3 separate regions of the Homo sapiens genome follow, and all the other regions are linked to region 1. Evidence: fine-mapped expression QTL. A gene starts in region 1. Each other region holds a variant in brackets. All regions are shown on one strand. Distances are from middle to middle. Region 1 holds the start of HOXA1 (homeobox A1). Region 2 has its middle 59 kb from the start of SKAP2. Region 3 has its middle 80 kb from the start of SKAP2.

What was found.
Region 2: its variant is fine-mapped to the expression of HOXA1 in whole blood (INTERVAL, PIP above 0.99).
Region 3: its variant is fine-mapped to the expression of HOXA1 in whole blood (INTERVAL, PIP above 0.99).

What each region holds. Positions count from the first base shown.
Region 1 is chr7:27,094,773-27,097,272 of GRCh38, reverse strand. HOXA1 (homeobox A1) reads left to right here and starts at 1,273. Exons shown (of 2, transcript NM_005522.5): 1 at 1,273-2,012; 2 at 2,478-2,500. The coding sequence starts at 1,361. HOTAIRM1 (HOXA transcript antisense RNA, myeloid-specific 1) reads right to left here and starts at 1,179. Exons shown (of 2, transcript NR_038367.1): 1 at 885-1,179. RefSeq lists enhancers at 311-883, 1,009-1,303, 2,185-2,500 and a silencer at 787-956.
Region 2 is chr7:26,922,473-26,925,322 of GRCh38, reverse strand. It overlaps the pseudogene RPL7AP38. Among named protein-coding and RNA genes, the nearest start is that of SKAP2, 59 kb to the right of the region's middle. The variant A/G (reference allele first, on the strand shown) is at 1,428.
Region 3 is chr7:26,943,485-26,946,334 of GRCh38, reverse strand. No RefSeq gene overlaps it. Among named protein-coding and RNA genes, the nearest start is that of SKAP2, 80 kb to the right of the region's middle. The variant AATAAATAC/C (reference allele first, on the strand shown) is at 1,187.

The DNA of each region.
Region 1 (2,500 bases):
CCGCCCCTCCCACCTGCCAGCCCCCACACCCACTCTAGACGTGCAGCAGAATGAGGAAGGTTATAAAAGGAAGCTCTCTCTCTCTTCTAACATTCCCCTCCAGAAAAAGAGGAACGCAACGAAGGGAGTTCAGCTACTATGTTGGAGCTGTGGACCGGCCCTGTGAGGCCCACGCGGGAGCGCGGAGGCTCCTGGGTCTCAGGGCGCCGGCAGATGGCCTGCAGCGCACCGCCCGGCCCCCGCGCTGGCCACGTCCGCCAGCGTCATCTCTCTCCCCCGCCTCCTACCCCTAAAAATCCGGCGGTCGAGTAGCTCCGCATCCCGGAGGGCTCCCGGTGCAAAACTGAGTGGGAAAGAGAAAGGGGCGGAGAGCGACGAGAGAGGGAAGGTGGGGAAGAAGAGCCCGGCCGCCCCCGGCCTTTTCCGGCGAGCTCTGAGTTTCCAGGGCTCATCCGCCCCTCCAAGTCGAATTACAGAAACTCCTCATTGCCATGCTAATGACGAGAGGGGCTGTGGGGAGAGGGTTTCGAAGACCCTCCTGGAAGAAGGGAAGTTTCTTTTCTTGCCCTCGTCTCCTTCACGCCCACCCGAGTTCCTCCCAGCCAGCCCTCTGCGCTCTTCCCCCTCCATTCCGAGCTTGAAGAGCCGGTGGCCCAGCCTCGCCCTCCACCACGGTTCTATGCGCTCCTCACAGCCCCACGGTCTCCCAGCCCAGCCTCAGAACAGAGGAGGTGGCCTGGGAACCCGGGGCGCGGTGTCAGCCGGATTCCCCGCCTTCCGGCTGGGCGCGCTGCGGGCTGGGCCGGCGTACTTGCGGCCACCCGGCGAGCTCTGGCCCACTGATTCCCGCCCCGAGAGAGCCGGGAGCCCTCTTCCCTTCTCACCTCTCGCCAGTTCATCTTTCATTGAACGGTGGGGAGGGGGCGGGAGCGGGGGACGCCTCCCAGCCCCCACCTCCCGGAGGCCTGGCGGGGCGGGCAGCGGAGTCGGGCGCGCGCAGAACGCAGCTTTTGCTCTTCTTCGCTCCAGCACTCCAAATCGGCCTTTGCAGTCGCCGCAGCAGCTGCCGCCGCCTAGGCTGCCTGGGGGGGCGACTGCGCGTCACCTAGACGGCGGAGCGCCGGGGATTTAAATGCCACTAAAACGGTGATCCATCACTGCGGAAGCCGGCAAACTTTTGCAGGAGGCTCAGCCATTGGCTGACACCGTCACGTGCCCCTCCTCCAGCGTCCTCCGCCCTCCCGCCCCCCCTCTTGCGCACTGTACATTCATATCATTTTTCTTCTCCGGCCCCATGGAGGAAGTGAGAAAGTTGGCACAGTCACGCCGGGCTTCGCAGGACCAGGTCACTCAGTGACAGATGGACAATGCAAGAATGAACTCCTTCCTGGAATACCCCATACTTAGCAGTGGCGACTCGGGGACCTGCTCAGCCCGAGCCTACCCCTCGGACCATAGGATTACAACTTTCCAGTCGTGCGCGGTCAGCGCCAACAGTTGCGGCGGCGACGACCGCTTCCTAGTGGGCAGGGGGGTGCAGATCGGTTCGCCCCACCACCACCACCACCACCACCATCGCCACCCCCAGCCGGCTACCTACCAGACTTCCGGGAACCTGGGGGTGTCCTACTCCCACTCAAGTTGTGGTCCAAGCTATGGCTCACAGAACTTCAGTGCGCCTTACAGCCCCTACGCGTTAAATCAGGAAGCAGACGTAAGTGGTGGGTACCCCCAGTGCGCTCCCGCTGTTTACTCTGGAAATCTCTCATCTCCCATGGTCCAGCATCACCACCACCACCAGGGTTATGCTGGGGGCGCGGTGGGCTCGCCTCAATACATTCACCACTCATATGGACAGGAGCACCAGAGCCTGGCCCTGGCTACGTATAATAACTCCTTGTCCCCTCTCCACGCCAGCCACCAAGAAGCCTGTCGCTCCCCCGCATCGGAGACATCTTCTCCAGCGCAGACTTTTGACTGGATGAAAGTCAAAAGAAACCCTCCCAAAACAGGTCAGTCCTGCTGGTTGGTGGATGCTCCTTGATTATTCTGGAAGGAGCTGGTATGCTTAATTTCCAAGGAAATTAATAATGATCTTTTTTTTAAAAGGCTTTTGTATCAGACTAGTGTTGTAGTGCATGGAGAGGGTGCCCAGAGGTGTTGGGGCAAAGAAGTCTCAGGGATTGGTGTGTTTTCAAGGATTTTATACATTTGGGAAATAGGAAGTATGTGGGGGTGGTTATTGTGACGGTAGTGTTCTGTTAATATCTTGAGGCTCCATTAATCACCGGTCTGACCATGCTAATGGTTTACATCAGGTTAACACTTTACACCTCATCACTCACCCTCCACAGCCCGATTTGTGCTGAGTTCTTGATCTTTTCTTTACCTGAGTGTTGCCATGAAGCGTGTGGGGAATCTCAAGTCGATTTAAAAATTTTTACATTTCCGTCTCATGGCTTCCCACTTTGCCCCAGGGAAAGTTGGAGAGTACGGCTAC
Region 2 (2,850 bases), 170 kb after region 1:
CTCATATTTGTCATTTGAAGAGGTAAGGCAGCTATGAATGGGCTTAGGTTAATGTCAGTATCCAAGGGGTTTAATCTGGTGTTTAGGACACAGTAGCAGAAACCTCTAGTGAGGAATGGTTATCAGAGTCATTCATTCATTCAACAGATATTTACCAATCACTTGCTGTGAACCAATGAGAATCTATTTTATGTGCTAGGGATAGTGCAGTAAAATAACAGCACATTCTCTGGCTTCATATTACTTACATTTTAGTAGAAGATCAATCCAGTTTAGAACAGAAATCTAGTCTGTGGGCCTAAGTGATCAGCAAAGGCTTGGCAGTGAATCAGGCCCAAGATTCGAATAGAACTCTTCTTCCAGTAAGAGATTCCAATATCACCTTAGAAAATCCTAGCAGAGGTCTGATCAGAGTGGGAAAAATACCTACACTAGGATGAAGGACCAGAGGGCCATAGGCAGGCTTGTGAATTTTTACTTTGCTATAGACAGCAAGACTAACTCCACACCCCTCTTGGTGCTGGTCATGATTAGTTTAGGAGAGGAGTGGGGTTGAACAGATAGTAGGAGGCCATTTGTGCCTGCAGCAGATCTAGACTTAGGGGAGAAGGAAAATGACATCTCTCCTCTAAAATGCGGATTCCTTCCCTCAGAGTCTCTACAGTAATCTTTTATGGGAGTGATATGACAGGTAAGTGGTAGAGTTGTGAGCCTTCAGGGAGAGAACTAACTTAAAAGCACTCTGAAATATTGCCAAACGGCATTCATATGTAAGGCATTAGAATAATAATGATAATTATTGCTTGTAGTAACTGATGTCTGAGAGGGCATCAACCTGGTATGGTAGCAGGTGACACAGAAGGAGAAGAGACCATGAACATACAATGAGCTCATTTCTCTTCTGCTCAAGGAACCCAAGTAATTACAAAACTTCAGCATATGTTTTGCATTACACATGTGGCTCTGTCAAAAATGATGGAGTGGTGTCACTTTATGTCTCTTTGAACTAAATGAGAGAGAGAGATGAGAAGTAAGTAGGCAAGAGACTGTATTTGATTTTATCTTTCTGCTTAAACTGTGTTTTCAATTTATAAACCAATTGGATACAAAATACTTATTACAGAACATGACTCTTTCCTTTTATATTAGAGGAGTTATCAACAGAGTGGTTTCTTGTGCTTATTAGAATCTTTGTTCAAATAAAGCCAAGTAAGAAAAATGGGTTGGGCCTCATCTGTCAGAGGGCAGAGGTAAGAAATAAGTAGACAAAGCACAGTATCAGAATGCATTTGACTGCAAGAAATAGAAAAGTCATCTGTACAGGCCTAAACAAATGAGCTTTGTATTTCTAACATAACAAGAAGTCTGGAGGTAGGCAGTTGCCTGAGTCAGTTCAGTAATCCAATGATTTCAGGGCCAGCTTCTTC[A/G]TCATTTTCCTGGCCAGAATATAGCTACCATGGCTCCAGTCACCATGTCCATGTTCAGGACAAGAAGGAAGACTGGTAGAGACATTCTACTTGTGGAGTCTTGTCTTTTTATTAGCAAGAGAGCCTTCCCTAGTGGACTTTCCCTTTGTCTCCTTGGCCAGGATTCAGTCATGTGCCCACTTATTGGCCAATCCCTGAGGAAAGAAAAGAAAATTACTATGACTGATTTAGACCAATTTCAGCTCATTCCTTGTTGTTGAGGTAGGGGTCTACCCTTCCTGAAATCAAGGGATCTCTTTCAAAAACCTGAATACAAATTGGAGTTTTGTTACCAGGGAAGAAGAGAGAAACATTTCTTGTTTAGACTAGGCACAGTGTCTGCCTTATGTGCCAGTGGATCAAAAAGTGGCTGCACACCCAATTCAGGGTGGGGAGACTCCTGAAAACTTAGTACAAAAAGATTCACAGAACTCTGCACATTAAACTAGAAAGTTGTCCCTGGCTAATCTTGTACTCCAGTATCTCCATTGCAGAGTCTTATGTGGTTCTTTCTTTCTCACTGCAAACTAAAGATGAAGGATTCTTTTGGGAGGCTGAAGTGGGCAGATCACTTGAGGCCAGGAGTTCGAGACCAGCCTGACCAACATGGTGAAACTCCGTCACTACTAAAAATATAAAAATTAGCCGGGCATGGTGGCAGGTGCCTGTAATCCCAGCTGAGGCAGAAGAATCACTGTAATCCCAGCTGAGGCAGAAGAATCACTTGAACCCGGGGGGTAGAGTTTGCAGTGAGCTGGGATCATGCCACTGCACTCCAGCCTGGGTGACAGAGCAAGACTCCGTCTCAAAAAAAAAAAAAAAAAAAAGGATTCTTCAGCCAGTGCATAGCCCACTGCAATGGGTGGTCTCCTGCCCTTTTTCTTTTTCTTAAAATTTGTATTATTTTAATTATTTTTATGTACAGAAATCTCAACAGTGTGCATTTAACCCAGTTTGGTGGCAAGTTCTTTAGCCTTTGCCTTTTCAAGCTTGGCAATGCGAGCCACAGATTTGGGACCCAGGACATTGCCTCCCCAGTGACGGCAGATCTCATCGTATCTGTTGTTGTAGTTGGTCCTGATAGCTTCCACTAGCTTAGCCAAAGCTTCTTTGTCTTCCAAGTTCACCTGTGTGAAGGTGACAGTGATCCAGGTCTTCCTGTGGACTATATGTCCCAGTCTTGCCTTCCTCTTGATAATGCAGGGGAAGAGACCCCCATTTTATGACACAAGGCAGGTAGGAAGACAAGCTTGATGGGATCCACATCATGTACAGTCACCACCAGCTGAGCCTTCTTGTTCTCCACCAAGGTGGTGACGGTGTTAACTCCTGCTTGAAGGACAAGTGGTCTCCTAGTGGAGATGTCCCCTTTGCTGCAAGCTTT
Region 3 (2,850 bases), 150 kb after region 1:
TGCAGCTCACATAAAAAGTAAGCAAGAGGGCCGGGCATGGTGGCTCACGCCTGTAATCCCAGCACTTCGGGAGGCTGAGGTGGGTGGATCACCTGAGGTCAGTAGTTTGAGACCATCCTGGCCAACATGATGAAAACTTGGCTTTACTAAAAATGCAAAAAATTAGCTGGGCGTGGTGTCAGATGCCTGTAATCCCAGCTACTTGGGAGACTGAAGCAGGAGAATCACCTGAACCCAGGAGGTGGAGGTTGCAGTGAGCCACGATCACACCTTTGCACTCCAGCCTGGGCAACAAGAGCGAAACTCCGTCTCATTAAAAAAAAAAAAAAGTGAGCAAGAAACAATCTTTTTTAAGTATTGAGATTTTTGGAGTTATTATTGCTGAATAATATAGTAGAAGCTGACTGATATACTTATCAAAAATAAAATGTTTTAAATGTTTCAGTAAAGTTCCTCAGTTACCTTCAGTACTCTTTCATTGATAAATCTTTCTTGGTTATACTGTATATACACTATAGGTATACTGTGTTCGAAGTACAGGAAGCTTCCATTCTTGTGGGGCAGAGAGAGAAGAAAGGAAGTGCACAATTAAAATAATTGTGTAATAATTTCATGAAGGAGAGAAATAAAGTGCTGGGGATGGAGGTTTAGGGAATCTAGAAAGGGTGGTAATGAAAGATCTCCTTGAGAAAGTGACATTTAGACCAAGACCTGAAGTATGAGAAGCTGGCTATATGAAGAGCATTCTAGGTCAAGGAACAGAAAATGCAGAGTCTCTGTGTGTCTCCTCAGCTTCCAACTTGACTGGTGTCTAAAAGATAATTATGTTCTAAGACATTTCCTGAAAATCACTTCAGAAGTTAGACTTGATCTTAGTCCATTAGAAATGCATGGGATTGCACTGCCTTTCTTAAATAGAGCAAAATGTAAAAAGAATCTTCTCATTTGACCATAGCATACTGGGCATAGGAATATCGAGGGATAATGGTAGCAAATGCAGAAACCAAGGTGAAGGGTAATTTTACTTTCTCTGTCTGAACAATATCCCAAGGCAGCCTCCCTGCTAGTCATTTCCTAGTTAGTTAGAAATTTCTTGTCCTCCCAAGAGTACTCTGGAGCAGGTCTCACAGAGTTCAAAATCATATAAATAAATAAATAAATAAATAAATAAATAAATAAATAAATA[AATAAATAC/C]TATGGAGTATCAAACAACTCTACAAAAAGTCCCATGCCACTGAGGACCTACGCTTTCTAGGATTAACTCCAAACTTGTTTGGGAGGAGTAGGGTCTGGTGTTCTGCTGGATATTAATTGTCTAATCATGTCACGCACACAAATGCTTCCAATAGAATTGTGTTCATCCTGCATCTGGAACAAAGCTGGAGAACTGCCTGGACCAGATTTCCAAATTCTCGGTTCCTCTTAATGTTGACACTGACATGGATCTGTGGAGAGAGGACTCTCATAGCCACCTGTGTAGGCAGGGAGATTAACAGGAAAAGCAATTAAATTCATCTCAATTCAGATGACTTCTCCCAAATTGCCATTCCACCACCCTTTCTCTCCCCTAAGGGAAAAGATGCAGGAAAATAATTCTTGACTTGGCTTTGTACTCTAAATTCTGCATTTCTGTGACCCCTAGCTCTACGAGTATGCAAAGCTGGGTTGGGAAGACAGCCAACTCTTTGCCTATTGCACCTGGTCCCTTAAAAGATAATTTATATATGAGGCAAAGGAAGGCATTGGGAGTGTTCTCTCTAAAAGGGGAAAAATGCTTTTAACTTTTACAGACATAATCTATAGACAGCAGCAGACAATTTATATATATAATTTCCCACTTGATGTAGTAGTTAAACTATTTTATCTGGCTTTTGCAATGATAGAAAACACTCCTATATGGCTCCAATGTATCCACAATATAAAGTAGAAATAGAATATAGACAGATAAAATTGCATAATGCTGTCATGAGGGTGATTTGAGAAACAGTTGCTACATTCCATTAAGAGCAGGGAGAGTACCTGCAGTCTTCTTAGAAGAAGCTATTATAGTCTAATTAGTGATGTAGGTAAATACACCAAGCCCTTCTGATTTTTCAAATTTATTTCATAAATGAATTTAAGGCACAATTTAAAAAATACAGTTAGTATTAAAGTAAATAGCACTTTTCTTTTCTCTTTAGCAAAATGGATGTAAAGCAACATAGTTTGTAAACCATTTCCCTGGCTAAAATGCTAATTACTACAAACAAACTAATCATCATTTGAATGAAGAGTATTCAGACTGAAAAACAGGAATACTAAGGTAATTGCTAATTATGCCAATTTAAAATTGGTTGTCAAATATCAGTGTAAAATAAATGTGAAAAATTAAATAAAAGCCCTGTATACAATTCATGTAAAATATAGGACATTTACAAAATGTGTGCTATGGTTGAGTGACTTTGAAAGATAATACTGAAAAACAAATTTGGGGATGTACTGGATGTCCAATTAAAACAATGTTTTTATTGTTATTTATTTGTAACTGTAATATTAATATGTTCATTTCATATTTATTTATATTTTTTAGCTAAAACATAGAAGTACTTAGTACATGCCTTTCTTTGGATGACCTACTTAACAAGATAGCTTATTCTTACATTAACTGTCTTACCTAATTGTCTTCCATAATATAAACACCCTTCCATTAAATCTTTTAGTTGTTTTAGCTGATCTAGTGAAGTTGAAGTGGTTAGTATTTAGATGTTATTTTCTGTAGTAATGATCTAAACAGAGTAGAACAAAATAAAGGAATTTTATGTACTTAAAAAATAATGTTTTAAAAAATCCCTTCACTTTTACTTACTAATT